Linked DNA regions of Homo sapiens: regions 1 and 2 are each linked to region 3. Evidence: fine-mapped expression QTL. A gene starts in region 3. Each other region holds a variant in brackets. All regions are shown on one strand. Distances are between the middles of the regions. Region 1 has its middle 21 kb from the start of DCBLD1. Region 2 overlaps DCBLD1 (discoidin, CUB and LCCL domain containing 1). Region 3 holds the start of DCBLD1 (discoidin, CUB and LCCL domain containing 1).

The links. PIP is the estimated chance that this variant, and not a neighbour inherited with it, causes the effect.
Region 1: its variant is fine-mapped to the expression of DCBLD1 in whole blood (INTERVAL, PIP 0.98).
Region 2: its variant is fine-mapped to the expression of DCBLD1 in naive CD4 T cells (Schmiedel 2018, PIP 0.95). The same link has a PIP of 0.9 or more in cerebral cortex.

The regions. Positions count from the first base shown.
Region 1 is chr6:117,456,681-117,467,555 of GRCh38, reverse strand. It overlaps the pseudogene RNU6-253P. Among named protein-coding and RNA genes, the nearest start is that of DCBLD1, 21 kb to the left of the region's middle. The variant C/A (reference allele first, on the strand shown) is at 4,949.
Region 2 is chr6:117,541,455-117,552,329 of GRCh38, reverse strand. DCBLD1 (discoidin, CUB and LCCL domain containing 1) reads right to left here. Exons shown (of 15, transcript NM_001366458.2): 12 at 9,119-9,206; 13 at 7,753-7,802; 14 at 6,733-6,852; 15 at 2,533-4,423. The coding sequence ends at 3,891. Among named protein-coding and RNA genes, the nearest start is that of GOPC, 56 kb to the left of the region's middle. RefSeq lists enhancers at 4,040-4,089, 4,100-4,159, 4,710-4,799. The variant A/G (reference allele first, on the strand shown) is at 5,442.
Region 3 is chr6:117,477,152-117,488,026 of GRCh38, reverse strand. It overlaps DCBLD1 (discoidin, CUB and LCCL domain containing 1), which reads right to left and starts at 5,353. Exons shown (of 15, transcript NM_001366458.2): 1 at 5,134-5,353. The coding sequence starts at 5,245. RefSeq lists enhancers at 4,318-4,367, 4,398-4,447, 4,458-4,537 and silencers at 4,898-5,477, 9,836-9,885.

The sequences.
Region 1 (10,875 bases), 20 kb after region 3:
TAGCCACAAACTATTGACCTGAGTGTTGGGATCAGACCCAGAAGCTGAGTCTCAGGAGGCTCAGCTAATAGGCTGCAGTGCCTCACCCTTTTTGTTCTGGGCCCCTCCATCTGAGCCAGGAACCAAAGTAGAAAGAGCTGGAGAGGGACCCTGGGGAGCAAGTAGTTAACAGAGATCGGACAGCAGGAGGCAGAGGTTACCATTGGTTGGGTAGAGGGCTGGAGGGTCTTCCAATACTGAACCTGATACTGACCTTCAGCCTTTAGGCTGAACTGAGAGATTAAAACCTCTGAGAAATTAAAACCAATATGGTCAGAGCAGGGGAGGCTGAGAGGAGGGAGTAGGAGAACTGAAGAGCCCTTAGCACAGCCCTGTTCCTGCCCTCAACTGCTATGCTTATGTGATATATGACACAGTGAGAAGGTGCTGGACAGGCAGTCAAAGAAAACTGGGTTCTAGCCCTGGTTCCACAACTCCATGACCTGGTGCAAACCCCTCCCCATCTTTCAGCCTCAGTTCACTCATCTCTACAAGAAGGAGGCATGGATGACCCGGAACACCTCCTGCGTGGCTGTCAGGATGCTGTGAGACTCCAAGGAAGTGGAGGCAATCTCTTGGGATGTCTGGAAAGTATTACTGGAAGCTTAAAAAGTAATAGAAACAATAAAAATGTGGTTCCCATCCCCTGGCCTCCCACTGTGACTCTCAGATGTTCAGACCTGAGATCTGAGAGTTCTCAAATACAGGTATCTGACATGGATGGGGCAAGAATAGGACACCCATGAACACTTTGCAGTGCCCACAGAGAGGAAAGGTATGAAGCATGGGACAATGAGAGTATCCATTCAAAAGTCACTCTGGTGGCGGATGTTGCTAATGCGGGGGTTGTTAGTGTGTGGGGAAAGGGAGTGTACAGAAATTCTGTACTTTCCACTCAGTTTTGCTGTGAATCTAAAATTGCTCTAAAAGTAAATTTTACTAATTAAAAAAACCTATCATACACTTTTCTATAGTCTTTTATCTCCTACATTTACAATTTGTATCCTGAGAAAAGTTCCTTATTTAGTTAAATACATGAAGGATTGAATTTTCAGCAAGTTTGAGAGCATAGAGGCTTTGCCTTTTAAAGAGATCTTTTTTTTCCATTTTCTCTGAAAATCTTAATGTTGTGTCATGTGATTTAAACATTTTCATGACTCCAGACCAAACGAAAATGATCAATATTCAGAGAAAAACAAGAGAGATAAAAATCTTGAGATCAAGAAGTTGAATAATCTTTCTTAGCAGAGATTTCTAAGTAAATAGGGAATCCTTTATGAGGTTTAATTCCAAAGTCTTTATTCAGACAACTATTCCCTTAGTTAATAGAACTTCTATTTGGATAGAGAACATAGAATTAGGAGATTGAGAGGCAGGTTATAAAGAATCCAGAAGCCCTGACACTTGGTTAGCAGAACTCCTGTTGGAAGCCAAGCAGTCTGATCCCAGGCACTTTCCTTTTCCCCTCTCCTTGCCCCTGTCTTTATTTCTTTCTTTATTTTTTGAGACAGGCTCTTGCTCTCTCTCAACTAGGCTGGAGTGCAGTGGTGCAATCGTGGCTCACTGCAGCCTCAATCTGGGCTCAAGTAATCCTCCCACCTCAGCCTCCTGAGTAGCTAGGACCACAAGTGTGTGCCACCACTTCCTCCCTGTCTTGGCACCCTGCTCTTTACTGCCTTCTCAAACTTACCAAATGAGATCTTTAAGGAGACAAATTTGGCAGACTGTGGTTAAAATATGAGCTAAACAGTTTCTCCTCCACCTCCTTTCCACACTCTTCCTCTTTGCAGTTTTAAAGGGTCCTCCATGCTTATTCTATGATCCATTTTTACAAAGCTTTGCTCTCTTGTTGCAGCTCAGAGATCTTTTTCAGATGGTAACTGATCACATCTTACTGAAGATTTATTTTTTAAGAGGAGCTATTGAAAACTAAGAATATCAATCCTGTCTCATTTCCTCAGCCAAGGTTTTCTGTCCCTCCTTGAAGGTGAACCCAGTTGGCTTTATTCCAAAGACTTCCCCTGAGTGCTGGGACACATTTGATATTCTTCCTTATTAACAATGGGACTTGGAATTAAGTACTATTCATCAGATTTGGGGCCTGGGACCCATGACATCTTTGTACCTATATTCTTAAGTTTTCTTCTCTAGTTATTGAGTGTAACTGGGATTCAGAGCATAAGCTTAGGTTTTCTGGAGTCACAAGACCTTCCCTGGGAGACTAAGAGCGTCTTGCTTTTCCTTGGAAGGAGGCTAATCTGCCTGATCTCCAATTAGAACGTAACAGGGAACTGCCAAAGACAAAATGGCACAATGTTGGGAATTGTTGAGACCAAGAAAATTGTCACGACTAGGCCACAAGTAGAATTAGGGTTGGGGGTTTCCAGAGCCAAGCAAACTAAACAGTTTGGTTTGGGGGTAAAAAAATCTGATCATGTGGGATAGCAAGGCCCCTGTTATGCTTCTCATGCATGTCTGACTGAGGTATTAAAAGAAAGCGTCAATGCTCACAGAATAAAAGCACAACACTGGGAATGACAGGCTGAGGAATTGAAGCTTTTGTTGGAGTCTCAGCCAGGTACTTCTGCACACTATACTAGGTCACTGGCTCTCTTCTGCTAGTGCACAAGAGTGACTAGATTATTATTTTAGAGACAACTGTTTCCTTTCTGCCTTCCTGTCTTTCATGATGGCAAAGCCTATTTCTCCCTTGTTCTTCTGTATGTTCACATATCACAGAAATCCCATAACCCTCTTAATTCGCTCTGTGGGAAATCTGCTCTAGAAATGTACAATGTGCTGTGTTCTAAAAATGTGTTATATAAAAAGAAGCTATTAGACTTCAGCTTCTGGGAAGATGGAGTAGCCACACTTTTCCTTATTCCTTCCTCTAAGTATAACTAAAAATGCAGAATATTATATATAGTACAAACATAAGACTTTAGAAGGAAGAGAGAAGGCAGACTGCCTAGAGATATTGGGATCTGAGAAGTGACACAGTGGTGAGTCACCTGGGTTTCCTTTTTGCTTTACATACACCAGACTTAGAACTGAATAAGCCTGCAACCGGCAAACACCAGCAGGCACAGACAAAACAAAAATGATAAAATAAAAACCAACAAAAGCCAGTCCTCTCTAGTCAAAGGATCAGAAAAGGGTCAGCAGAGCATGAGGGAAAACTTTTAGATAGTAACTGCTCTAATCCATTCAAACACCACAGTCAAATGTGGCCCTACTGTCACTCACACCAGCAAAGTGGGGCACCTAGACTTTCACCCTCTTGAGGCTGTAACAAAGCATCCCAACATCCCCTCCACATTGTCTCCACTGACTCCACAAATGTCCCCCCACCTCAAATGTCAAGGAGGCCATGTGGGGAACCTGGACTTCTACCTCCACCTGAGAGCTCCATGAGGCCGTACATCACTCTTCTGCTGGAGATGCATCAGAGAGAAAGCCAGCTAAAAGAGAAAGTATAAATAAATTCCTGGGTCTCATAACATAATTCAGCCATGTGTCACTTAATGATGGGGAAATGCATTGTTAGGTGACTTCGTCATTGTTTGAGCATTTTTGATATGGTTTGGCTCTGTGTCCCCACCCAAATCTCATCTTAAATTGTAATCCCCACATGTCAAGGGAGGGACCTGGTGGGAGGTGATTGACACATAGGGGTGTTTTCCTCTATGCTGTTTTCATGATAGTGAGTTCGTTCTCAGATCTGATGGTTTAACAGTGTTTGGCAGTTCCCCACCCATGCTCTCTCTTACTCCTGACACCCTGTGAAGAAAGTGCCTGCTTCCCCTTTGCCTTCTGCCACGATAGAAAGTTTCCTGAAGTCTCCCCAGTCATGTGGAACTGTAAGTCAATTAAACCTCTTTCCTTCATAAATTATCCAGTCTTAGGTAGTTCTTTACAGCAGTGTGAAAATGAACTAATAAAATTATAGAGTGTACTTACACAAACCTAGATGGTATAGCCTACTACACACCTAGGCTACATGGTACACGCTCCTGGGCTAAACCTGTACAAAATGTTACTGCACTGAATACTGTAAGCAATTGTAACACAATGGTAAGTATTTGTGTATCTAAACATATCTGAACATTAAACAGGTACAGCAAAAATATAGTATTATCATATTATTATTATTTCAGACAGATCCTGATGTGTTTAAAAATGTATGTGGAAGAAATATACTGTATAAGACTATCTTATTACAAAAGAAATAAGTAAAAGGATGTAAAAGGAGGTAACATTTTTATACTTCACTTGAACAGGAAAAATAACGGCATCAGTAGATTATGATTAAGATCTCTCTCTCTCCATATCTTGAATAAAAGGTATAGAGAGATACACTCAAAAACATTATAGATAAATCCAAATGAAATTCTAGAAAATGTTTAAGTAATGCATGGAAAGTCAGGGAAAAGAAAATAGAGAAATGTAAAACAGAAAGAACAAATAGAAAAGAAAAAATATAATGGCAAACTTAAGTCACCCCATGACCCAAGTACATGCTGTTTACGAGAAACTCCCCTCAAATATGATGATATGGGCAGGTTGAAGACAAAAGGATGGAAAAAGTATATCATGCAAACATTAATCAATGAGAAGCAAGAGTGGCCATATTATCTAATAAAGTGACTTTAGAGCAAAGAAAATTATCAGGGATAAAGACATTATACATATATAAATGATAAAAAGTTCAGTCCAACAGGAAGATGTAGCAATACAAAATATGTGGATATCAACAACAGAGCCATAAGATATGTGAGGCAAAAACTGATAGAACTGAAAGAAGAAATAGACAAATACATAATTATAATTAGAGATTTCAACACCCCTCTTTCAGCAATTGATAGAACAACTGTACAAAAAGTCAGAAATTACATACAAGAACTCAACA[C/A]CATCAATGAACAGCATCTATTTAACATTTATAGAACACTTCACCAACTAACAGCAGAACACATATTTGTTTTCAAGTGCTCACTTATGCTGCCTAGGAAATTTTTGGTCGGTTCATTGGAATTTTCTACATAATCAACTATGTCATCTACAAATAGAGACAGTCTTATTTTTTTATTTCTTCCTTTACATATGCTTTTCTTTTCTTTTCTTTTGCTTGTTTTGGTTATTTTTTTCCTTGCCTGCTTTGTTTTTGTTTTTGCATTACTGAACTGACTGGAACTTCCAGCACTCTGTTGAATAAGAACAGTAAGAGGAGAACACATCCTTATCTCGTACCCAATCTTAGGAAAAAAGCATCATGCTTTCACCATTAGGTATAATGTTAGCTATAGATTTTTTTGTGGATTTTTTTTATCAAGTTGAGAATGTTCCCTTTTATGTTCCCTTTTATATCTATTTTTCTGAAAGTTTTTTTCATTAGTGGCTGCTGAATTTTGTCAAATGTGTGTCCTGCATCAAATAATATGACCATGTAAATTTTGTTTTTCTTAAGTCTGTTGATATGGTGAACTATACTGATTAATTTTCAAATATTGAACCAGCCTTGCATCCCTGGAATAAACATAGTTATGGTGTACATTTTTTATATATTGCTGAATTCTATTTGCTAATATTTTGTTAAGGATTTTTGTGTATATAGTCATGAGAAATATTGGCCTGAAAGTTGTTTCTTCTGTTTTGTTTTATATTGTCTGTTTTGGTATGAGAGAAAAATTAGCTTTATAAAATGAATTGGAAAGCGTTCCCTCCTTTTCTCCAAAGGTTGTGTATAATTGATGTTACTTCTTCTTTAAATATTTGGTAGCATTCTCCAGTGAAATCTTCTGGGCCTACTGACTTCTTTTTGAAAGCTTTAAAATTATAAATTCAATTTTCTTAATAGCTAAAGGGCTATTTAACTTATCTTTTTCACATTGGGTAAATTGTAGTAATTCTTGTTTTCCAAGGAAGTGGTTCACTACATCTAAGTTGTCAAATTTATGTGTGTAGAGTTGTTTATAGTAATGTATTTCATCATTTTCCTGTTGAGGTCTGCAAAATCTGTAATGATATCCCTTGTTTTATATATTGATGTTGGTAATCTATATATTCTCTCTATTCTTTCTGTCAGTCTTGCTGAAGGTTTGTCAATTTTGTTGATTTTCTCAAAGATCCAAATCTATTTTACCTATTTTTTCCATTGTTTTTCTGTCTTTAATTTTTTTTTTCCTTTTTTTGAGATGGAGTCTCACATTTGTCACCCGGGCTGGAGTGCAGTGGTGTGATCTCGGCTCACTGCAACCTCTACCTCCTCGGTTCAAGGGATTCTCCTGCCTCAGTCTCCTGAGTAACTGGGATTACAGGCGCCCACCACCACACCCAGCTAATTTTTGTACTTTTAGTAGAGACGAGGTTTCGCCATGTTGGCCAGGCTGGTCTTGAACTCCTGACCTTAGATGATCCACCTGCCTCGGCCTCCCAAAGTGCTGGGATTACAGGCATGAGCCACCACGCCTGGCCTTCTGTTTTTAATTTCATTGACTTCTGTTCTTATCTTTATTCTTTTCTTCTTTCTATTTGCTTTAGTTTTAGTTTGCTCCTCTTTTTCTAAGTTCTTGAGATATTTCTGCTATTGATTTTTAGTTTGATTTCATGGTGGTCAGAAAACACATTCTGTATGACTTCAATTATTTAAAGTGATTGAAGTTTGTTTTATGGCCCAGGATATGGTCTATGTTGGTGTACGTATTGTGAGCAAAACAAAAACAAAAACAAACAAGAACCTTAACAAACACAATTTATCCAAAAATTAACTCAAAATGGATTATATCTTCAGTGTTAAAACTATGAAATTTTAGAAAAAAACATGGGAGAAAATCTTCAGTGTCTAGGGCTAGGTAGAAATTCCTAGACTTGTTACTTAAAATGCACAATCCATAAAAGGAAAAGTTGATAAATGGAACTATGTAAAAATTTTAAAAATTTGCTCTGCAAAAAAAAAAAAAAAAGCCTAAGAGGATAAAAAAACATGTTACAGCATGGAAAACATATTTTCCAACCACATATCTGACAAAGGACTCGTACCTGAGCATATAATGAACTCTCAATATTCAACAGTAAAAAAACCGAGCAATCCCATTAGAAAATGGGAAGAAGACACGAAGAAACATATGACATAAGAGGATATATGGATGGTAAACAAGAACATGTAAAGATGCCGAACATCATTATAGCTTAGGGAAGTGCAAGTTAAGACTATATGTTATCAGTAATACTTATCATAATGACTAAAATAAAATGGTGACAACACCTAATACTGGTGAAGACAGAGAAACTGATGCTCATTCATTCCTGGTGGGATTATAAAATGGTACAGCCACTCTGGAAAATAATTTGGCAGTTTCTTAAAATACTAAACATGCAACTCTATACAAACCGGCAATCACACTCATAAGTGTTTATCACAGAGAAAGGAATACTTATATTCACATAAAAACCTGTACGCAAATGTTTATAGCAGCTTTATTCATAATATCCAAATTCTGGAAACAATTCAGATGTCTTTCAATGAATGAATGAGTGGTTAAACAGTGCCACATGCATATCATGGAATACTGCTCAGCAAAAAAAGCAAGAAGCTATTGATACATACATCAGCTTGAGTAAATTGCCAATTCATTCCATATTGTGCTGAGTGAAAAAAGCCAATAACGAAACATCATGTGCTATATGATTCTGTTTATATAACACTTTTGAAATGACAGAGTTGTAGAAATGGAGAGTACATTTGTGGTTGCCAGGTGGTAAGGGGTAGGGGGCAGCAGTGGTGAAGTGGTGTGGCTGTAAGAGGGCAACAAAAGGGATGCTAGTGGTGATGGAAATGGTTGTGTCTTAACTGTATCAACATCAATATCCTGGTAGTGATATTGCACAATTGTTTGTTGATGGTATCAGTAGGAAAAATTGGGTAAAGAGTGTACACTAGATCTCTCTACATAATTTCTCACAACTGCATGTGAATCTAAAATTATCTCAAATTTAAAAGTTAAAAATTTTTTTAAAGGTTGTTGAAACCTTTAAAAGCACTTAAAAGTGCTTTAAAAGCACTTTTTTTTTTAAAGGTTGTTGAAACCTTTAAAAGCACTTAAAAGCACTTAAAAGTGTGTTAAAAGCACACACTGTGCTGGAGGACCACAAGGCAAGACTACAATGAAAGGCCTTGCAATTTCCATGTCAATCTAAAGATGATAAATTAGTTTGAGTCTTTGCCCTTGAGATTTGGGCTCAGGCCTGATTTAGGCTCGGCTTGATTTGTGGGTTTCTAGACAGGTCTGGACAGCCCATTTTGTCTTCTCCCATTTATTAATCTACTGCTTAGAGTAATTTGGTTCATATCCACTGAAGAAGTTAGGGGAGGAGATTCTTATTCAACTCCTATTCTGTACAGTTACCAAGTCTGTTTGCCCACACAACCTTGATACTAAAACAAACCAACCTTTTTTTTCATCTAAAGCAAAAAGGTATTATTTGTATGTAGATATGTAGGTTATATGAATCTTTTATTAATGAGATCATAGATAAACTCATCATGTAACTTGATTGTGAGGGGCAAAAATAAACTTGAATAGCCTATCCTAAACTGTCATAGGAAGGAATATAGGCTCATTTTGGTATCAGAGAGAAGAAAAATGCAACCATAAGGCAATATCATTTCAGAATTTTCTTGCAAAAAAATTAAAGGTTTCTATTTTGTAAAGGATGCAATGGACAAAATTTATAGAAGGATGGAAAGATTGGGAGAAGATATTTGTAACTCCTAAACACACACCAATGTTTGCAACATGTTTGTATCCACAAATTCCTCAGAAAAATACAGAGAATGTTACTTAAAATGAGAAAAATAAATATGACAATCATTCACAGAAATCCAAATGCTTAACGAGTGTATAAAGAGCTGTCAAAATTTCTTAGTAACAAGAGAAATGCGAATTTTCAGTGCAATGAGATACCAATTTACAGTGACGAGAGTGGCAAAAATAGTTGGATAATACAACATTTGGTGGTGGTGTTGGGTCACAGGCAACCTTCTGCACTGCTGGAGGGAATGTAGGCTAGTATAGCTTATGGACAGTGATTTTGCAGTCTTCAACCAAATTAGGTACCCAAAGCTCTACTACCCTGCCGGGATCATAACAGGACATGAATGAGGAAGTAGAGGAGTTAGGATGTCCATCACTTGGAATGAGCAAGTACAACGTGGTGGATGCACACCATGGAGCACAATATCACATTTAGAAGCAATGAACTAGATGTACATGTAACAGCACAAACAGGTCTTTAAAACATGGTATAGAGTAAGAAAAGTAAGATGCAGATTGGAACCATTATATGTAATTTTATAGAAGGGTTTAACATACACAAACAACAATACTTTTTTTTACAAGGTTGCACACAAATTCAAGAAAGCATATAAACCACATTACAACTGTTGCCTGTAGCTGGAAAGAGAGCAGGGATGGTAGATAAATAATACATATGTAAATAAACAAAAAGGGGCTGGGTATGGACCTTGATGATGCCGTGCCTTGAAATGAGTATGATTAGCTGGCACCTGAGGTAATTAAAGGAGGAAGAGATGAAGAAGTAAGGGAAGGCTGGTTATATGGAATTGAAAGCTGAGTAGATTGAATGCAAACAGCAGCTAGGAGGCACTGGTAAATTTAGTGCTCACTTCGGCAGCAGTGCATATGCTAAAATTGAAATGATACAGAGAAGATTAGCATGGCCCAGCACAAGGATGACACGCAAATTTGTGACGTGTTCCACATTTTTTAAATTTCCCACTCATCATCCAGGAAGAATCAAATTTATTCATTCACACAAACATTCATTTACTGATTTAGTAAATAACTTTTCCCTGTCCACTGGAAAAAAAAAAGAGGTATTGGTAAATTTAGAAAGACACCTGAAACATGCATAGCTCAGCTCTTTGTCTTTCTTTTGGGAGCCAGCCTCCGTTGTGAGGACTCGCTTAGGTTTGGGCCTCCTAGGATTGAGTGGGCAAATGTTAATTCTGTGGTTTAGCCAGTAGGCCCATTTGGGTTCTACACTTCCAGCTGAACTTAATTAGTAATGACTTCTATTCTTACTTTCTTACTCAAATTGCTCATCACTGGGTAGGTAAGAGGGGTGCTATTAATTGGGAGCCCCTCTTGGAGACTACAGCTTTCACAGGCACGCAAGTAACTTGAACTTTGTTATTATGATGATTTGCCAGCCAATTTTTCTATCATCTTATCCACCTGGATCAAGGTACAGCCTGGACTTAACAAAAAGCAGCGTATTGAGCTAAGGAGTAAACGTACTATTCTCACCACTAGAGAGGAGTGTAGTTGTTATCGGAGCTTCCTATCAGAATCTGTTGACTCAGGTTTGTGTGTAAAATTAAAATCACAGATTAAACAAGCTTGCTTATCAGGCTTTCGCTGGACATTTTCAATTATTACTATGTTACTAGGGTGGGGTATTCTAGAAGGAAAAATGAAAAGAGGGCTGCAGACATACTGGGAACAATGGGCAGGAGGTAGCAAGAGGGTCAAACAGCACTTAGAAACCTTAGCCATCGAGGAGAGCCTTGTCCAGTACAACAACCAACATCTGTAGCCTCAGGACAAAGCAAATTTCTGCTCCGTATTCTGCTCATTAGGTAAGAAAATATCTAATCCATTTTCAATAGATTGTCATTTAAAAAAAGTCATCTGAAATGGCTAACTTCAGCTATTTGAAAAATAGCTAATGTGCAACACCTCATCCCTCAGTCTTATTTGATGAGATATGGTTTGATATTACTATCTTAAAATAATTATATATTTATAAAGTCTACTT
Region 2 (10,875 bases), 64 kb before region 3:
ATCTAATGTATACAAAACACTATAATATAGTCTGCACAACAGCCCTTTTATAATAATTTCCATTCTGGGAATAAAGAAGTAGATTTAGAAAGCACCAGTAATATGCCTGTAATCACATAGTTACAAAGATTAAATCTCCAGTTAAACCCAAGTTCTGTATGGTTCTAAACCTGTGCTATTTTCTCTTTTTAAAAAACAACAACAACAACAAAAACATGGTCTTGCTCTGTTGCCCAGGCTGGAGTGCCGTGGCGTGATCTTGGCTTACTGCAACCTCCACCGTCTGGGCTCAAGTGATCCTCCCGCCTCCCCAGTAACTAGGACTACAGGCTTGCACCACTACAACTGGCTAATTTAATTTTTTTTTTGTAGAGAGGAGGTCTCACTACATTGCCCAGGTTGGCCCCAAACTTCTGGGCTCAAGCTATCAACCTGCCTCAGACTCTTAAAGTGCTGGGATGTGTGATACACCGTGCCTGGCCTGATATTTTAATAAATATGCTTTCTTGTACCTGTTGGGGAGGCATCATTCCAGCAAGACGGCGGACTAAATAAGAAGAAAACCTGTCTATTATGAATTCCTAGGAATGTCAGACCAAATAAATCAGAATTCTTCACAAGGCCTAGCTAATGTCTTAAGAAATAAAGGGAAGCCGGGCGCGGTGGCTCACGCCTGTAATCCCAGCACTTTGGGAGGCCGAGGATGGCGGATCACGAGGTCAGGAGATCCAGACGATCCTGGCTAACACGGTGAAACCCCGTCTCTACTAAAAATACAAAAAATTAGCTGGGCCTCGTGGTGGGCGCCTGTAGTCCTAGCTACTCGGGAGGCTGAGGCAGCAGAATGGCATGAACCTGGGAGGCGGAGTTTGCAGTGAGCTGAGACAGTGCCACTGCAGTCCAGCCTGGGTGACAGAGCCAGACTCTGTCTAAAAATAAATAAATAAATAAATAAATAAATAAATGGAAATACTCAGGTATCAGAATCAAAGATAGGATGAGAAGCTCTAATGAGCATCCAATAGGATTTCCAGGAGAAAATAAAGAAAACAACCAAAAAAAAGGGCTGATCATTTTCATAGTTGATAAATGCTAAGATTCAAGAGGCACAAGTCCTGAGCAATGTGAACAGAAACAAATTCATAGCTCAATACATAGTAGTAAAATTGCAGAATACCAAAGACAAAATAAAAACCTTTAAAGCCCCTAGGGGAATTTATCCCAGAACAAGGAGAGGCTGGGAGCAAGATCAGTGGGAGACAGGGGATCTGTAGTGGGATGTGAACACAGCAGTGTGGGTGGGTGTGCAATGTGGCATGGGGTGACTGCATGGGCTGTGTTTTGGGCAGGAAATACTTGCAGGTTGGGGTGTTTGTATTCACCCTAGCTTCTCATTGGAGGGATTCAACTGCTCTCAGATCTGGGGGAGAGACTAGGCATTCTCTTTCAACTCAAGAAAGTACAGGGTAAACACTGCTCTCAGAACCTCAATAACTATTTGGTACGTGCATGAATGCAAGATAAGCATTTTAGGAATAGTGAGGTCAACCCGGTGGCCACACTTGGACTGCTGTGACTGGTCAGAGTGGGGAAAGGTCTCATAGCTATTCATGGTATATACAGTTGTGCCTACAAATGTGATTTCATGTTAAGAATCCAAAGCAGTATAAAATAAACACAAAACAATCTCTCACATCCTTTCTATTTTCTAGGCTGACTGTAAACGTTAATGAACATTTAAATAACAATAATAAAACCCAGAGCAAAGCTTCAGGAGCCTGTGTAAGTGTAGTCTTGCTTGTCATAGCAAATGTGTTTCAACCGCAAATTTAAGAAGTGGCAGAATACAATCTTTGCCTCCCAGTAGGATTTGATAACATAAGTCAGACAATTAGAATTGTCTCATTCACGCCTTATCATATATGCTGATATTGCAAAACACCAAAAAAGAAAGATGTAAAATTTTTCTGCCCTTATCCTCTAGTTTAGGTTTAGCTGTGTAGGGTTTATCAGACCTTTCCACTCACCCAACCTGTTCTACAGAGTCTACCCTGAGGAAGTGATGATCCAAAAAAAAAAGTCCTGTTCTCCCACTGGTCATGATTAGATCACTAGTGCCGCAGAAGAACTGTGATAGATGAAGACAGCTCTATTGTAAAGAAGGGCTGTAGATCTAGGCCTATGCTTATGGTCTAATATTCCAATATTAAAATTCTGTAAACAGCCCACTGAAGGCTTACATTAGAAAAAAGGACCTACTATAGACAACACTTTGATAAATGTTCCAACTAATTTTTATCAGTAAGTTTTGGAGGAAGAAAGCACGACAACACCATTTTCAAACATGAGGAAACCGAGTCTCATCATTATAGAAGCAGCCAGACTTCTCTTCTGTGGTAGATTGGGGTCTGGCCTAATCTGGCACCAAGCTCTTTCTCTTTCCACTGTGGCACCTGCCTTTTTACAGAAGCTGAACCTTGAGTGCCTCTAACACCCCAGCGAGCAGGGCTGACTAGTGAGAGTCAGGGGCAGTTTGGTTTGGCATAGTTTATTACAATTAGTGTGCGCATAAAACCATGTAAACTCTACAAAGTAAACCATTTCCCCTCCACACTAACCAGCAGCTAGTCTGCCATGACCTTCCAGCACCCCCATTATTTTAACATATATACATTTCACAGGATGTAATAACCACACAAATAGGGTTATAATACATTCTTCAGGGAAAAAAATTTTTGGTCCATATTTTCTATTAAAAAAACACACACACTTCCCTCTTTGGCAAAAGAGGTTAAATCTCCCATAGTTAACTCACAAAAGAAACTCAAATAAAAACTACTGAGCATGAGGTACAGCTGATGTCTGGACTGTTCTGGAATTACAGACGCCTCCTTGAGGGGAAAATCATTTCTTATAAAATGAGATCAGTTTCCAACAGTTTCATGTCAGTAGAAAAGCTCGATTTAGACTTGGTCAGAATCACTTTTGCATGAACATGTTCCAAATAACTTTGTTTTTCAGAGGACAGCGGAAGTCACGAAAATGTGCTACTTCTGAAGAAAGTCATGAAAATTGTGGCGTCTGACCTCAGCAATATTTTTAATCTGAGGTACGAAAACATCTGACACAGCCATTCACACTGTAATTCCTGTGCCACCTTCATGGTCACCGGAGCTGGGCCGACCTCTTCGCATCCCCCTCTGAAGTGGAGACTAAGGAAACGGGCAGCTGCTGAGGTGTTGTTTCTTTGCTTGTTTTTAAATCTACAGTCATAATTGCTAAATAAACAACCACCCTGGTGTGCTTTTCATGCTTCAAGTAATTCATTTCTTCCAGGAGAAGAATGTTAAAAATGCTTTCAGTTCTAGTTATCAAAGGAGAGGAAATGACTCAATAACAACAAGACTAGGTTTAAGCAGACCTGCTGCTAACACAGTATCAGATAATATACTGAAAAAAATGAACATACTATTTATATACATTTTGCAACAGCTGCATTTTCCCACTTAACCTCTGTGCAGAACTAAAATCTGATAGAGCAAACTTAAGTTACTTTTATTATTGTTAAATACAACTCTGTACACATTACACCTTTAACACCAAAGCAGCTCAATATCAGTCAGAGGAATGAAAACGCCATCTGAAAATTTTCATTTTTCTAGCCCAACAAAACCCAACAGACGCACCCTAAGGGTCAGCACGAAACCAGCTGCACAATTTTGTAAACAGTATGACAGGTTGTCTCTAGGATCCTACTGGATCACACACACACATGCAAGTGTACACACACACCGATACACACGCACACTCTGGACCAGCAGGCTCCCTTCTTCCAGTGCCTTGTGACAGCCCGACGCTCAGTACCACAGCAGGCTTCTTTCACATTGTGTTCACAAAAGGGCAGTCATGGCCGTCTGGTTGAGGGGTGTGAGGCAGTCTCTGGGGGCAGAATAGCTGTCACTCGTCCCGGGATGCGTTGGGGGCTTCTGAGAGTCAGGGTGCCCGCTTTCGGTGGCGAGGGCGCTGACAGCTTTGGGCCGGTCGTAGCCCCTGTCCGCAGGCTGTGCGCTGTGTGGCCTTTGATAGTCTCCGTCCTGGGCGCCCACACCCGCTACGGGGGAGAAGCCGCCCGAGGAGAGGGAGTGTTTGTGGCCGGGCTGGGGCCCTGGGACGCGGTAGCCGCTCTGCGCAGAGAACGTGTGGGCGCGCAGCACGTGCCGCTCCACGATGGGCGTGGCGTACTCGGGCTCCGGGGGCGCCAGGGGCAGCGCGTACTCGTGGCGGCCGGCCCGCTGCGGGCAGTCATAGTGGCCGCCGGCATCGGTGCTCACCCCTGCCTCCTCGGCATCCGTGTCCATGGGCCGGAAGGTGGAGCCCTTCCTCGTGACTGTCCCGGTGCCAATCATGAGGGGCTGCTGGTAATCTGAAACCACAAGACAGATGGCAGCTAGCGGGCACCACACACGGGCCGGCCTGTCAGTGGCAGACGGGGATACTCTGCTTCAGGTCGTGGTGACTGACTTTCCCCCCGGGTGCCCTCAGGTGTCCCAGGCACTGCGGAAAACCCTGATGTGAAAGCCACAGAAGCCACCCGCAGGCAGTACACAACCGCACCGCCTGCTCAGGAAGCTTCGCAGGGTCTTCTCAGAGATGGGGGCGACGACGACGTCCTGGGGCATGGGGACATACTTCAGGGAGGAAGTGGCTCTGAAACTGGCTCTGGAGAAGCTATGGAGGTGGAAGTCACACAGTGTGGAAATGGAGAAAAAAACAGCCTCGAAAATAGAGTTGATATGGCCAGAGTATGAGGGACACAGAGTAGTTTGTTTAATAGGATATGAGGACCAAAGCAACAGGTCAGGGCCTAGTGGTGACAGTGAGGATGATGCCAGGAGCTCCCATTTATAGAGCTCCTACTCTTTGCCAGGCGCTATTCCAATAGCAAGATGTTAATAATCTTCAAAAAAATCCCGAGGTAGGAACTGTTACTCCATTTTACAAATGGGAAACCAAGGCAGAGAGAGACTAACTTTTCCTAGGTCACACAATGGGGCGATGGAGTAGGATTCGAACGCACATCCTGAGTATATGCTGTTAGCCACGCGTTAGAGCATGGAAAAGCATTGATTGTCTTGCTAGGAAGTCTGGTTTAATTCTATGGGAAACGAAAGACTGGCACTTTCAGAGGTAACTGTGGAGGTTGACCCAAGAGGAAAAGATCAAAAAGTGAGAGGTAAAAAAGCAAAGAGAAATGCACATAGAAGTCACAAACTAGGAAAGAGGAAAAGTGACCCTTTGGGACAGGAATCAGGAATTTGTTACCAATGAGAGGTGGGGTGTGAGGAAAGCCGGGAGGCAAGGACTCTTTGAGGCTGGGATGTGCAGTCGAGAAGCCATTAGACAAGGAATGCACAGAGCATCTGTGGTGAGGGTTAGGAACA[A/G]TGGATTCGATTGTGGTTGCTGAGGAACGGGTGACATCTGCAGGTGGAGGTGTCCAGCAGGCTGCTGAGAATTATGGACTGGGGACTGAGAGGGAAGTCTGGGTGTGAGAAGCAGCATGGACAAACATGCAGGGAAGGGCACTGCTGGAAGTTGGGGAGGGTGTGGGACTGTTTAGGGGAGAGACTGTGGTGAGTGGGGGTGAGACAGAACCCGGGTCATTGCACATTTAAGGAGCCTGAGGATCATTCAGGGAGGAGGGAGGAGAGACTGAATTAGAAGCTGAAGGAGAATGAAAGGCATAAGACAACAGAAATTAGGTTCTCCCTTCATGTCACTTCCAAGGAACAAGAGGATGGATTTTGGTTGCAGAGGATGCTCTCCTTGTCCACAAAGTGACTCAACCAACCCTTAGGCTGACAACTCCCAGTCACTGATGTGCACAGGCGTCACCTGGGAGCTTCTAGTTCTATGGCCTCCCTTTCTAACAAGCCCCCAGGTGATGCCTATACTGCAGGTCCTCAGGCTGCACGTGAGGAGGGAGAAGCCAGAGCGCAGTGCTACTCAGAGCATGCCCCACAGAGTCCTATGTATCTGAGAGCTGTTTTTAGCAGTGCCATAGAGACAGGTGCAGAAATTGAGACTAAGTGTCAAGAAACTACTCTTAGTTACTCTTTATTACTCTTAATTTTATGTCTGTTGAATCTAATAATAAAAAATTAGAGCTTTGTATTTTGTATCTTTAAAATTTCCTTATTACTAGTATTTTATATTGCATTTTACAGTGTATTCATTCATGATGGAGTAGAAATTTTAAAAAAAGAAACAAAAAGCATTTCCCCATAGATGGTTTGGGAAGCTCGACTCTTGATGTGGCTTGTCAGGGACACTGAGGCCCTTCTCATACTGAGAGAGTTCCTTTATTTCCTATCTCACCTTCCTCAGGGCAGGAACTGTATTTAATTCCTCCTTTCAGCCCCTCTGTACCAGTGCCTTAATCAAAGCTTTGGTAACAAAAATAGATTCAGGGCTTCCAGATACAAGTAGTACATCAGGGCTATCACTATGGATGTCACTATATCCCCTGCAGGTGAAAAGACTGGCTGAATAGGGCTTTTAAGTAATATCTCAGTGTCAGTTTGTAATTCTGTGCAGAATGCAGAAAAAACACATTTCAGATTTACTGGACCCTATCTAAATAGAAAAGGATTTTGCCTTATTTCTCTCCTGTCTCCCTCCCCCACAAGCAGCACCTCCAATCTAATAGCACAGTCCTAGAAATATGACACTTACCTGCCATATCACTTGTGATGAGATCTAACTTTTGTGTCATCTCCTTCTCATTATCATAGCTGATGGTAAACTCAGCTGACTGATGTCTGGCAAAGGGATATTTAATCTGCTTCCAACAGTCTGGAATAAAGGTAACATAAACCAAATGAATATGTCAGAAATGTAATGCGCGTCCTCCAGAACATGTTCCTTGATGAGTCAGAGGTCAGGCTGCCTCCTGACAGCTGACAGTGATCAATGTCCTCCTCAGGTGTGTGTGCTAAGAACAGCATGCCAAGGTCATTAACCACAACAGCAAACACTACTCTAACCATGCTTTCCGCTGTGCCTTTAAAAGGTATTTTGCCCTCATCAGGTCCCAGATTCTCCCTTTGTGAGATCATCTGGGTATGGTCTCCGACAATCTGCACTGGCATGGCATCTGTGAGGCAGAGGAGACACTGCAGCTGGTGTTTAGACCCTGGGGAGGTGGAGTCTCAAATGGTCCCTGAGCTTTCTCAGGGGTCCTGCCCCACTGCCCTCTCTCTCTGGACCATGGCTAACTCATTGCTTGGGCACCTGTGTCTGGGAAAGTGAGAAAAAGACCAGACGGGGCTGGTGTGCAGGATTATCTGAAACCTGCACACCAGCCCTGCCTGGTCTTTTTCTCACTTTCTCAGGGTGGAAAGTACAGCACAGGCCTGCAGATGCTAACAACACGGGCCTACTTCAGTTCACTGATAAGGCTTTTGTCATACCTCCTTGATGGCAGACAGTGTCGTGGCCTAAACTCCAGTGGCCAAGAAAAAAGGATGTTGACAAATGATAGGGGATGACATTGAACAAAAGTAAAGTGGCCATTAAAATAAAGAGACAGAACACAATAAATTTCTTCCTTATAGATATGCTACTTTAAAGGCTACAGGGCTTATGTCTTTTAACCAAATAAATGTGGGCCACTGGCCTCCTTATGCTTTCAATCAGCAGATCCTGTCCCTTCCTCAAAGACAGATAAAATTGTAGATAGAGTTTTCAACCAACCTGTTTTCTGAGCCTCTGCTGATCCATACGGACTTCCTTTCTTCTTCTTCCTATCAAGACAAAAAGTCCTACTGAATATTTATAAGCCAATGTATCTGCCTCTCTCTCCCTATATAACATAAGGATCATAATAGTACTTACCTCATAGGGTTGATGTGAGAATTAAATGAGATGGCAGCTGCCATGTGCTTTAGAAAATCATACAAATATGTAGAATTATCTATAAATTTATCTCATTTATAAGAAAGGTCACAAGATTTCACTAGAAGAATATATACTAATCTTATTTTGCATATTAGAAATCAGTGCCTTATTAAGTTTATCACTAGCTCATGCAGTCATCCTGAAGCAATTCCTCATGACCACATGGTCTCACTTCATCTCTACTATACTCCAGTCCAAAACTGTGGGTGTCTTTAGAAGCATTTCATACAAGCACATTACACTAAGGCATGCTTTAACTTATGAATATCTACCTGAACCAGAGACTTTTGTACCTTCTCTCATGATGGCAGAAACTATTCTTCATTCTATTTGTACTAATATACACATTATAGATTCTGAAGTTGCTTAAAATATAAGAAGAGAAAACTTCAGAATACTTTCCATTTTTTGTTTAGATCCAACATCTAACATTTGTCAAAATAAACATGGATCTCAGGGTTCTGGAAGAGATTCAGAATTCATCTGGGTAAACTATATTTTATACATAAGGAAACAGGCTTGGGGAGGCTGAGTTACGGGGCAGCTTGGTGATACCCCAAGCAGCCTATTTAATATTCCTTTTACTCTTCAGGGAGGAGAAGCACAGATACTTCTAAAGCAATATATCAATTTCAGGATACTTCAACAATACTCAAAGGTTAAGTCTTTACCAAAGGTCTCTAAATGACAAGAACTGCTTATAAAGTAATACATGGTGGGGTGCGGTGGCTCATGCCTATAATCCCAGTGCTTTGGGAGGATCAAATGAGACCAGAAGTTTGAGACCAGCCTGGGTGAGAAAGCAAGATCCCATCTCTACAAAACATAAAAAAATTAGCTGGGCATGGTGGCACATGCTTGTAATCCTAACTACTCAGGAGGTTGAGGCAGGGGGTTTGCTTGAGCCCAGGAGTTTGAGCAATCTCACCACTGCACTCCAGCCTGGGAGACACAGGGAGACCCTGTCTATAAAAAAAGATTAATAAAGTAATACTCGATCATTTCTACTTTTATCTAACTTGTTTGTAAAATATAAGTTAACATTTTATTTTGAAAGAAGCCATGCTGCTTTTGTACATATGCATTTCTGAAGAATAAACTTTTTGGTTTTTTATTGTTCGCATAATTAGAGAAGAAATTTAAACATGTAAAGTCACCATACTTTCTAAAGGCTGCAAAGATCCCCATTCCAGCAAACACCAGGACAACAAGGAGCACCAATGGAATAGCCACCGTTGTAATGTTTATTCCTAAAGAAGACGGAAAGCCATCACGTTACAACATAAATGACCAACAACCACTTTTCATGATTTAAAACTGAACATGGAATTGAAAAGTCTTTAAGCATTTAATATAGGGGGAAAATGAATACATGTTAGGCATTTACTGATATTGGAAAGCAAAAAGAAAGGATTCAAAATCCTGGCTAAAGTTTGGGAAAGTAAAATTTCTCCCCCAGCCCCCCAGAGACAGTTTCCAATGTTCCTCAGGGACTAACAGGCACACTGGGCTTGTTGCTTGGCCCATATTAAACTCCAAAAATCTGAAATGAGGGGAGAGTTTAACCCCTCCCCCACCCCTCAGGTGAGAACTATTTAGACAGGTAAATGATTTAAGCACAGTGTGGAGCTCCTACTTTGGCTCAAGCAACACATTTCCCCAGATGGCAGGCGGGTTTGGACCTGTACCATAACAATAGTCTGGAAAACTGGGATCCTCGTTACAGAGCTCTGGGGCTGCGGACTGAGAGGAAGTGCAGCCTGATGACCTAAAACTGCATTTCCACTATGTTGCATGAAACACCACATCATGTTTTCCTGCAACTCTTTCTGCTCTAAAAAAAGGACACTTTGACAGCCACCAAGGCAGGCCCCAAGTTTGTAGAAAATACACAAAGTAAAGGAAAAATATTTGCTCTTCATCTTTCTCTTCTGTGATCCCTGGGAAGAAAATAAAGGGATGCTTAAGAGTGGAAAAATGCAATTCATGAAGAAGGGGAAAAGGGATTTAGATGAAAACCAAATTTGTGTATAAGTAACAGAAGTGTTATTATTACTTCTTTTTCTTTTTTTTTTTTTTTAAGAGATGGAGTCTCGCTCTGTCACCCAGGCTGGAGTGCAGTGGTGTGATCTCGGCTTGGGCAACCTTCGCCTTCTGGGTTCAAGCAATTCTCCTGCCTCAGCCTCCCGAGTAGCTGGGACTACAGGCGCATGCTGCCACGCCCAGCTAATTTTTTGTATTTTATTAGAGACGGGGTTTCACCATGTTGCCCGGGCTGGTCTCGGACTCCTGAGCTCAGGCAATCCGCCCGCCTCGGCCTCCCAAAGTGCTAGGATTACAGGCATGAGCCAATGTGCCCGGTAGCGGTGTTATTTTTAAGAGTGAAAATTTGGGGAAAATCAAATAACTTAAAGCATCCAACAGCAGGGGAATGGTCAAGTAAATAATGGTTTATCCATGTGAAAAAATACTATAAAGACATTAATAATTGGGGTTTTCAACCTTCCAATAACATTGGAAAATGCTCATAATACAATGTTAAATGAAAAATATATGCTACAGAACAGAATAATATGATATGCTACCATTTTTGTCTTAAAGTTAGAAACATAAATATAGTTGACTAGAAACAGTGAGATTTGGTGATTATCTACGGATACTGATTTATGACTAATTTTTGTTTTCTTATTTGTGTTTTTCTAATCTTTCCAAATTCTTATAAAATTGATATGCAAATTATTTTATATTCTGAAAAAATGTACTTTTAATGTTATTTGAATAGATTATATACTTATATGTTCAAAATGCAAACCGTATACAAAAGTATGGAATGGAATGTGTCCCTCCTACCTCTGTTCCTCCTTCACAGAAAGCCGCATTATGTTTTCTTGAAATTTTTCTAGAGATACTGGAATGAAT
Region 3 (10,875 bases):
CATACCAGCGCTCACAGTCACGACTCTATTTCCACATCGGGTAAGAAGTCATCACATGCGTTTGCTTTATTTTTCCCATAAACTAAGTCTCCCTCACCCAGTAAGGCAAACAACTATTTTTTTTAACATACAAAGCAGACAATAAACATCTGGAAGATAACATCCACATGACTCCTCAGTTTGGAAAAAGGCAAAACTACTCCTCAGTCTAATGAAAAAAAAAAAAATCTGAAATTCTGGCTGTATTTTTCCCTTCACCCTCAATGCCAAATTTCTAATATGCCAGAATGAATTTCTCTATTTTACATACGTACTTTCAGACTTTTACATTCAACATTGGATTAGACATACAATTTCATTACTTTGCCGTGTCCAGGTTTTAATTTCTTTTCTTTTTTTATTTGAGACTGGGTCTTGCTCTGTTGCCCAGGCTGGAGTACAGTGGCTCAATCTCAGCTCACTGCAACCACTGTCTCCCAGGCTCAAGAGATCCTCCCACCTCAGCATCCCGAGTAGCCGAGACCACAGGACACCACGACACCTGGCTAGTTTTATTGTATTTTCGCTAGAGATGGGATTTCGCTATGTTGCTCAGGCTGTCTCAAACTCCTGAGCTCAAGTGATCCGCCTGCCTCAACCACCCAAAGTGCTGGGATTACAGGTGTGAGCCACCTCTGGCCAGTTTTGATTTCGTAACTAGAGTGAGGTTGAGTCTTACAGGGCAGGAATTGTGTTTTCACTGCCTTCTCACCCCATCCTCACTAAGCACCCATCCCCTATTGAGCTCCCAATATGGCCACTGTTCAAGGCACAAAACTCATAGACCTTATAATCTAGTAGGAGGAAGGCAGTCAATTTAAAGTGTAAATTATACACTTTGTTGGAAGAGGGTAAGTGCTCCAGAGCAGTGGTCACCAACCTTTTTGGCAACAGGGACGGGTTTCGTGAAGGACAATTTTTCCGTGTATGGGGCTGGGTTGGAGGGGGATGGTTTCTAGATGAAACTGCTGCACCTCAGATCATCAGGCATTAGATTCTCATAAGGAGCGTGGCAATCTAGATGCCTCAAACATGCAGTTCACAATAGAGTTCAAGCTCCAATGAGAATCTAATGCCCGGCTGATCTGACAGGAGGCGAACTCAGGCGGTAATGCTCCATTACCTGTTGCTCACATCCTGCTGTGTGGCCCGGCTCCTAACGGGCCAGTGACAGGTACCAGTCTGCAGCCCAGGGCTTAGGGATCCCTGCTCTAGAGAAAACTGAAAGCTAAGAAGGGGAATATGGAGTTCTGGGAATGAAGAGAGGGTTTCAAGTGCTTAGGAAAGTTCTCCCTGAGAGGACAACATCTAAACAAACACTGAAGGAGGAGCAAGCTTTGTGGATATTTGGGGCAAGACTATTCCAGGCAGAGAACAGCATGTGCAAAGGTTCTGAGGTAGAACAGTGCTTGTCATTTTGGAGAAATAGCAAAAAAACCAAACAGCTAGAGAGGCCTGAGTATGGGGGAGCATTTCAGGGAATGAAGTCAGAGAGGCAGTGGAGGAGACAGAACAAAGAGTCCTCAATATTTGTCAAATCAATAGTAATAAACAGTAATGAATACTAAGATAGCTAACATTTATTGATTTGTTTTAATAAAGAAAAACAACTAATTGCTCTAATACGTACAGAGTTGACTTTATGCTTTAAGACACATGTAGAAATAGGTGTAAACACTATGGGGTATATTTCCCAGAACAAACTTTTTTTCCCTGCTTTAACACAACTAAAACCTTTGCTAAATGCTGCAATTAAATTCATGCCCCCATGTATCTTAAAAATAAGACATAATTCCTCATAAATGTCAGATGCCTTACTAATTTCCAAGCTGTGGTTTTTTAAAATGATTTTCAAGTCTGTGTCAGTTCCACAAGGTTAAAGGGTTCAAATTGTAACATGAAAAGTTAATAAAAACAGTTTGGGACATTATTCAGAGTTCAAATTCTGCTTTAAACATACCATTTGATTTGTTTAATGAATTTTTTAACATAACCTCTTTCTTCTCTGAAATATTAATATATAACTCACTGTTTCTGAGTGTTACAAATTATATCTACTAGAGCCAAAAGATATTGTACATATTGTTCTGCTGGCATGTTCCCTTCTTTCTGCTGTATTTTCATTTAAAAGGCATCCTTACATATAGAAATAAGCATGCCAAGAGAGCTGGGCTTGATAAACAAAATTAATTAGTAGAAGCAGCAGATGTACACCTTTATAAAGAATGTCAGTAGGCTCTTTATTACTTGGTTTCCATTAGTTAGGAAGTCATTTGAAAATATATCCTAAACACAAAGAGATTGTTCAGTTCAACTCAAGGAACACTGAGCACCTTTGTCAGATACTAGGAAGACAAAGACTATATAGTCCCAGTCTCTGCCCTCAGGATCTTACAGTCTACAAGGCTAGCTGTCCAGATGAGACAACAGAAGGGTGAGTGCACACACTGGTACAGAAGGTGACAGAATAAATTTGTGCTGATTTTTAAAAAAGCCACTCACCTAAAACATCATCTATCAGCTGATCCTATGTCTAACCCAAAATAAATGACAGATGATTTAACAGCAGACCTTCTAAATAACAAATTAAGAGTTGGGCAGAGGGTTTTGAAGCAATTCTTAAGTATGCAAGATTTGAATCTACACTTGGAAGTTTCCTCAGAGATCAAGCGCTCATTTTGATTCTTCACTTAAATCACAAGGGAATACTTTAGCTAATAACCATTTGCAAATCTTGTGGTGGAGAGAGAAGCAGGGAGTTTTAGGTTGCACAAATTCATTACACAAATGAAGGGTATTTTATTCTACAAAAATGTATATCAAGGTAATAAATTTGGACTAAATCCAAACCTACGAATTTATACAAGTGGAATAAAAACTAATGATCAACTTAATGTCTTATTATGAAAGGTCAAAATTATGTGAAACAATCTATGTAAATATGTACCTTTAGTTAAACGGATCCAGAAGAACAGGGCATAAGGAGCCGAAATAATCCCAGCTCTGGCCACTAAACCCCAATGCCTGGACCTGGCTGGCTGCAAACAACGGGAGGGGTGGACACTTTTTTAAAACTTTAATTCAAGAAAAACACCAGATAGGCAAGCAGTTGCCCTACAAAGGACCCAGTATAGCTTTATGGGGTCACCAGACTCTGACACACAAAAAATTAATTAATTGTATTGATTAGGCTTATAAACATTCAGGTTAAGTTATACCATTTGTTTCCTAAAACCACACAATAAATAAAAGTCTAATACGAAATTGCCTATAACACAGATGGTAGCATTTTATCACAACCCTAACATTATAAAATTATAAAGATTTGAAGCCCAGTAAGAATCTAAGCAACCACACATGCCTGTAGTCCCAGCACCTTGGGAGGCCGGGGTGGGTGGATCACTTGAGCTCAGGAGTTCAAAACCAGCCTGCGTAATATGGCTAAACCCTGTCTCTACAAAATATACAAAAATTAGCCAGGTGTGGTGGGATGCACCTGTAGTGTCAGCTACTCAGGAGGCTGAGGTGGGAGGATTGCTTGAGCCCAGGAGGTTGAGGCTGCAGTGAGCTGAGATCGTGCCACTGCACTGCAGCCTGGGCGACAGAGTGAGACACTGTCTCAAAAATAACAATAATGATAATAGGTTTTTAAAAAGAATCTAAGCAATCACACTTGTTCCTAGAGAACCGCTCTCACAAAGTGCCCAGTTAACAGCCTGGATGACCATACAAAATCTAAATCTTTATTGGGAAAGATAAGTGACAGCTTTGGCCAGATTAGTACAGGAACATACTGCTGGACTGATTCTCACAGACGTATAGTATTAAAGGTGCACCTTCAAACTGTGAGTTGAGAAAAAAATAAAAATATTTAAAACATCCATTATAAAAGTCCTACGCATTTAACAAAATCTTACGTATTTATTACAATTTTACAATCTGCCTAGTATTGTGCTACAGTACCAGACAAAATCACTTTAGGGTTTTGGGGATTTTGTTTTTTTAAACAAACTGGTATGTAATATAAACTTAGGAACCACCACCACCATCTCGAGTATCAATGTTTCAGAATGGAGGCATAGTTCAGTGAAAAAAATGCCGGCATTGGTTTTAGTTTTGATTCTTGTTTCACCAGAAAGCATGGTGGTTGGGGGAGCTGTCAAAGTACTCCGGATAGACTCAGCGCCATTAAATAAGCTCAGGCATATACGGCCAGGAGCAAGGGAGGAGAGGAAACACTGAAACAACTCGGCAGAAAGCTGGCCCTTGCTATTAAAAAAAAAAAAGCACTAATTAATGAGGACGAATGAAATAGGGACACCCAGGGCTGGTAAAGGGGGTTGCTGCTTTAATATGCTGGACAGGCAGAGGGTAAACTCGGTTGTGGGTTAATTAGGTCTAACTCCAAGTCAAAGACCAGCTCCAGAGAAAAAGCAGCCTGGTTGAGAGTCTACCGGCTCAAATACACAGGAAGCCACACGATTCCAACTTGCGGCGCCAGCAGGACACTCGAGAGGAGGTGGCAGCACCGCCTGCTCGCCAGCGTCCAAGGCCAACCTCGGCAAACGTGCCCCGGCCATTCCGCACGAGCCCCGAACGCACACGCCGGGATTCCAATTCCGCGCGGGAGGAGCGACGGCAGGGAGGGCAGGGCCCAGCGCCGGCCGAGGAGCGGCTTTGTCAAAAGGCAGCTGGAAAGAACTGGCCCTGCACACGGCTGTCCCCTAAGGCGACCCTCGGGGTCAGGTCACTTCTCACGGGGCCAGCAGAGTCAGGAAGTCTGGAAACTAAGTGAAATGGGCTGGGGGGCGGCGGAGAGAAAGTGCAGAGACGCCAGGTTAATTCTCTGGTTTTGGGGGAAGGAAGGAGTTTGGTGGGGGAGCGACAAGGAATGCAGTAACCTACTTCACCCCCAGCCCCGCGGGTAGAGCCGGACTCCGCGGATGGCAGGCGGCGAGCCCGACTTCCTCCCGCGCTCCGTCCCCCCAGGCCCGGCCCGCCCCGTAGCCCTCGGCCCGGCCCGGCCCGCCCCGCAGCCCTCAGCCCGCCCCTGGCGCCTCGGGTCCCGCCGCCAGCCGGACGCGCTCCACTCACCCAGCTCCTCCGCCTGCAGCCGGAGCGGGGCGGAGACCGCGAGCAGCAAAGCCAGGAGGCCCCGCCCGGCAGCCCGCGCCAGTGCGCCGCCGCCGCGGGCGCCGGGCACCATGACCCCGCTGGGCGCCAGCTTGGCAAGCTCGGCCTCCCCTCGACGGATCCCGAGCCGCAGCTGCCCGGGCCGGGCCGCCTCCTCTGCGGACGAGCGCGGCGCCGGGACGGGGCGCAGTCGCTGCCCCGCACCGAATCCCATTGGGGCGGCTTTCAGCCCAGCCCTGCGGGGGCGTCTCCCGCCCGGCCCCGCCCCGCCCCGCACGTCGGCCCCTAGAGGAGGAAGTCGCGTTCCCAGGCAGTGACCGACGGCGAAGCCGGAGGCGAGCGAGGCGCCGCCCGCGCTCCCCTCCACGTATCTGGCGCGCCCTGCTGCGCTCCTTCCTTGCCTTCCTCCCCACCTGCACCAGTACACGTGAACCTGCTAGGCAGCAGGACACCTCGCCGCCGGACCCGCCCCTCGCCGCGTGGTGCGGGAGTCATTCCTAGATGGGCTGAGCCCGCGGCGGTGCCTTGGGAGGCTGCCCCCTCCAGGGTTTTGCCAGCCCGCGGGGATGGGCATGCCAGGGATAGCAACACCGAGGGACTCGAAATATTTTGATGATAGGATGATGACAGTGCCAAGTAGGACCTTCACTGATTTATTCACTCATTCATTCATTCATTCAAAAGTTACTCAGTTCAGCAGTGTGCTTGTCAGGAGCAGGGCTAAACCCATGTGGCACTTGCAGACAAAAATAATCAGGCAAGTATTCAATGCAAATTGCAATCAGTGACATGAAAGGTGCTGTTGAAGCACATTTAGAGAGCTGTAATTAGATGGCGGGTAACAGGGGTGAGGGCGGGAATCAGCTAGGAAAGGCCTAAGTGGCATCAAAGCTGAGATTAAAGCAGGAGCCAAAACAGACAAGTTGTGCAAAGAAGCTGAAGGAGGAAAGGGCCAGGTAGCTGGAGCACAGTGAACAGGTGGGTACACGGCCAGATGTAGAAGCTAGTGTACAGAGTAGGGGCCAGGACGTGCAGCTAAATAACCTAAAGGATGTTTAACTTGGTCCTCGGAGTAGTGAGCAGCCACGGAAGGTTCAGAAGGGGGAAGGACTCCACCCGATGATCCTCTTGAGGAGTTGCGGAGAAGGGTTTGGGGAGGACAGATTGGAGACTGGAGAATTACAGGGTTATCACCGAGTAGTTGAATAGGGTGGTGGCAGTGGAAAATGACGAGGACAGATTAGATATGTATTTTAAGGACTATCTCACGTCTCTGGTCCCCTGTAGTCCCCGTTTACTTCCTCTGCGCGCTGCCCTCACCTTCGCACCACCGCGCGGCACGCTGAAGTTTCACCTAGAGGTGCAGCGCAGGGAAGCGTGGAGGCGGAGAGGAAGCAACAGCCCCTCCAATGGCAAACATTGGCCCCTCGTGATCTTTGGATACCCTGGACAGACTCATTTCATACATGCGTTCCTTTTTTCCTCTTCCTTTTCTTTTTTTAACTAAATAAACAAGCTGATAAAATCTCAAATGAGATTGTCTTTGGGGCTTTGCTTTCTCTGAGGCAGCATATCTTAGATGAAAGAACTTGGGCTTTAGAAATGGAGGGGATCCCGGTTTGATTCTGGACCTCAGCTTTGTTGAAGAGCTGAGGTCCAGAATCAAACTGGGTATATATGTGTATATTCAGTGTATACTGAATTTGTATATTAAGTTCTATCATGTAGAGAAAGTACCTAACTGAATGTGTATATTGGGTTCTAGCATGTAGAGAAAGTACCTAATAAACGGTAGGTTTTATCATTTTTTAACAGAAAGTAAATTCACACCCATAAAAATATTGAGTATTCTTACACTCAAAAACACAGAACGATACTTTGATACGTTGAGTCTCCTCCTAACTTCAGTTTTCGCTTTTTCTTATTTCTCTTCATTCTTTCTAAGTGAGTTTGGGCAGCTGCTTCCAGGCTCCAACAGGTTTGACACTGTGAGCTATGAATGAAGCAAAGACAATGGGGAGTATTGTTTAACAGTGAGGAATTCATAATGTGAGGCAGGTGGGCTTTCAGGGGTGACTTTTTTTTTTTTTTAACTTCAGTCAGTACCTTGATGGGAATGGAATTATCTGCTGTACACCTGAATCCTGAGCCAGATAAGGGGAAAGATTTAGGATCTGGTAACAATGAAGAAACAGAAAGACCAGCCAGATCCTATTGATTTCATCATGCCATTCCTTCCTTGAAATGTAAAATCTCTAGTTAAGAAAGTCATAATAAAAGAAAAAAGTGAAAATACAACAGATTATAAAATATATATACTGGGGTGTGTGTGTGTATACATGTATATGTATATGTATGTATCATTTTTAGAGAAAGGGTCTTACCATGTTGCCCAGCTGGAGTGCAGTGTCTATTCACAGGCCTGATCACAGTGCACTACAGCTTCCAGCTCCTGGTCTCAGTCCTCCTGCCGCAGCCTTCTGAGTAGCTGGAACTACAGTATATTTTTCTATACAATGAAATAAGCCTTGTTGAATTAATATACTTGTTTTAATCTTGAGACGATTCCACTTTGATTTTTTAAAATGATGCATGATGGAATCTAAGAACCAAGTTCCATTAAGAAAAATTATGCTTATTAGGATCTACCTATAAACATTTCACATACTAAGATGGGAAATATCTCTAGGGAAGTGTCTCTCATAGGCTATTGCACTTCTAACCCATCCCCCCACTTGCCATCCAGTCCTTATTTTGCATATCTTACTGCAATTTATGCTTACATTTGCCAGCTCTTCTGTAAAAATACATAACAGCTGGTCAGGAGCTGCCTTATTTTATATTATAAATTATGTGTTCTGTCTTGCTTAGGTAAGACAGAATTTAAACAGAACTGCAAACCTAGCATGATTCTAAACAGACAGCTTCAAAATAGATTGTAGTCCAGTTCAATGACCTAATTCAATTTATCCTTAACATTTAGTAACCCTGCCTGTGACTCTATGAAGAAAACTATCAGCTATAAAATTGAAGCCCTTATAGATGTCTGATATGGTTTCAATCTGTGTCCCCACCCAAATCTCAAGTTCAATTGTAATTCCCAATGTTTTAGACATTTTCCATATGTGAAACAATGTGACAGCAGTACAATAAAAATAAATACCTTCTCTTCCTGATTTATGATCTAATAATAAAAATTTGGGAAAGTTAATTATACAGACAAAATGAATTATATCGATTGATAGGCACAGGGATAGCAGAGGTACAGGGTACCATGGAATCACAGAAGAAGGGCATATAACCTGGATTTTAAAAGTCTGGCAGGGCCTGGGAGAGGTGAAGATATTAATTAGAAGGAAAACAATGTTTGTCAGACAAGGAAAAGATATTATTTTTAAAGCTCAGAAACAGAGATCACAGGGTGCTTATGAAGATTGAACCTGGCCAGGCACAGTGGCTCACACCTGTAATCCCAGCACTTTGGAAGGCCAAGGCAGGTGGATCACCTGAGGTCAGGAGTTTGAGACCAGCCTGGCCAGCATGGAGAAACCCCATCTCTACTAAAAATACAAAAATTAGCCAGGCATGGTGGTGGGTGCCTGTAATCCCAGCTACTCAAGAGATTGAGGCAGGAGAATCACTTGAACCCAGGAGGCAGAGGTTGCAGTGAGCCGAGATCATGCCATCATACTCCAGCCTGGGCGAAGAGCGGGAGCGAGACTCTGCCTCAAAAAAAAAAAAAAAAAAAAAAGATTGAGCCTACATTATCAGTGAACTTGAGCCTGAATACAGAGTGGGAGGCAGAAGCAGGATCTCAGGGTTCTGGGGGGTAGTGGGAAGCAGGGAAAGTGTAGAAACTTGTTCAGATTTGCATTGTAATAGGTGTCAAGATTACGGCAATAGAGGAGCAATCAGGCTCAACTTTGAATTCAGGGATTCAGTGAATCCAGTGGGCAGGGTGAGGGAGTCCATGATGAAAAATCACTAGGAGGAGACATCGGGGTAGAGGGGATTCTTGTAAACTGGCTTAATGGGATTCTTGCTGAATGCAGGTCAAGGACTTATATGTCAAAGATAAGGGAGGAGAAACTTGATCCAATACAGAGGGTGGGGTATTCTCTCTGAACTAACTTAGCAGAATTCTTGCTAAAGCTGGACTAGGCAGGCCAAAGACAGGGTTCAAGGACAATGCCTAGATAAAAAGAAGGCTCAGGGGAGCTTGACTGTTTGGTCACAGAGAGTCTTTGTCACCCCCATGTGGATATTTTTGCCACAAGCACTAAACAGCTAGGCTACAAAGGTCAGACCCCTCCCTCCCTGTGGCAGAGCTCAGCAGGGCACAGTCAACACTTTCCTCCCAAAGTGGCCTTTCTCTAATTTTCATTTCTGATAAAACTTACCATTGTCCTACGATTCCTTCTTTAGGCATGCTATTGAGGCAAGCATGCCTCTCCTATCCAGGCTTTCTCCCTTATTCCGTCATTGTGTTTGATTCATTATTCACTAATTTACGGTATCACTTTCCAGGGCCAGCCCTATTTTTAAATTCTAGTTGCCTCTGTACTACATGCGATACATTTGTGTCATTTCAAGAAGTAGTTTTTGAAGAAGTTTCATATACTTGATCTGAGTTGGTTCTTATGACAACCCCAGGACAGCTGTTTCCTAATTGTGTTTCTCTTTCTCTTCTTTCTCTTTTCTAACTTTTCTGTTAGGTTAACTGTTCACTCTTTCATCTTGCCCAGAGACCACATGTTGAAAAATGTCCTTGGGAGCTTGACCTTGTAACCATGTGGCAGTACTTTCTCTTGGTCTCTGCCATCCAGGGAGCAGGAATTTGGGGGTTCATGTCATAGTTATTCCCAAAATTTATGCCTTTGCAAACTCAAAATTGGTTGCTCTAGACTCCTTCTGGGAAGTGCAATGGAAACTTCCCAATGTTGTAGCTTAATAGTTAAGGCTTATGGGTTTCACCTGTGAGATTATTTTTGGTAAAGTTCAAAAGCCAGAAATATTGGCAGTTTGGCATGGCTAAAGGTGGTAGTAAGAGATTTAAAAGGACTTTAAAAAAAAAAAGAGTGCTATGGTGAAAAGTCCACTTAATTGAAAGTGGATATTCAAGTTCTAACAGCCTGGGACTCCTTGGGAAAAACAGAGGAGATGCCCCAGATCCAGCACTGGGAAAAACCTCTGTTTTCCTCAGAGAAATCAGTAATTGAAAGTGGATAGATCTCTCTCAAAATCTTAGGCTCTGTTCTGTTTTGCATTACATTGTGTTATCTGATGTTTTGACTCTTGGGTATCAAAAACTACTTTGTGTATAATAACTAGGTAGGAAATATACTTTTAGGAAAGGCTAATGGCAGTTATGGGCGAATACTTGACTCTTTGGTGTTTGGATTGGAGAAGTATGCTCTTGGCCACCTGGAAGGTATGCAGATGTGTCTCCCCAGCCCCCACACACCCAGAGATAAGACTCCTATGAGGGATGGGCTAATCACAGAATGGACTGATTGGCTTTAGATTGCTTTGCAATGAAATGCACAGTAAAATCACTGTACTGTCTTTTTCCATAGTGTTTCTCATTTTGGGGATCCAGGATCTGGTATAAAATGGGACCCTTAATTTTAGGGGAATCTGTTTTGCCTTCCAGCTGTGCCTGCTTATTAGGCTGTAGAAACTGCCTGTTTTCCTGTCCCTGTT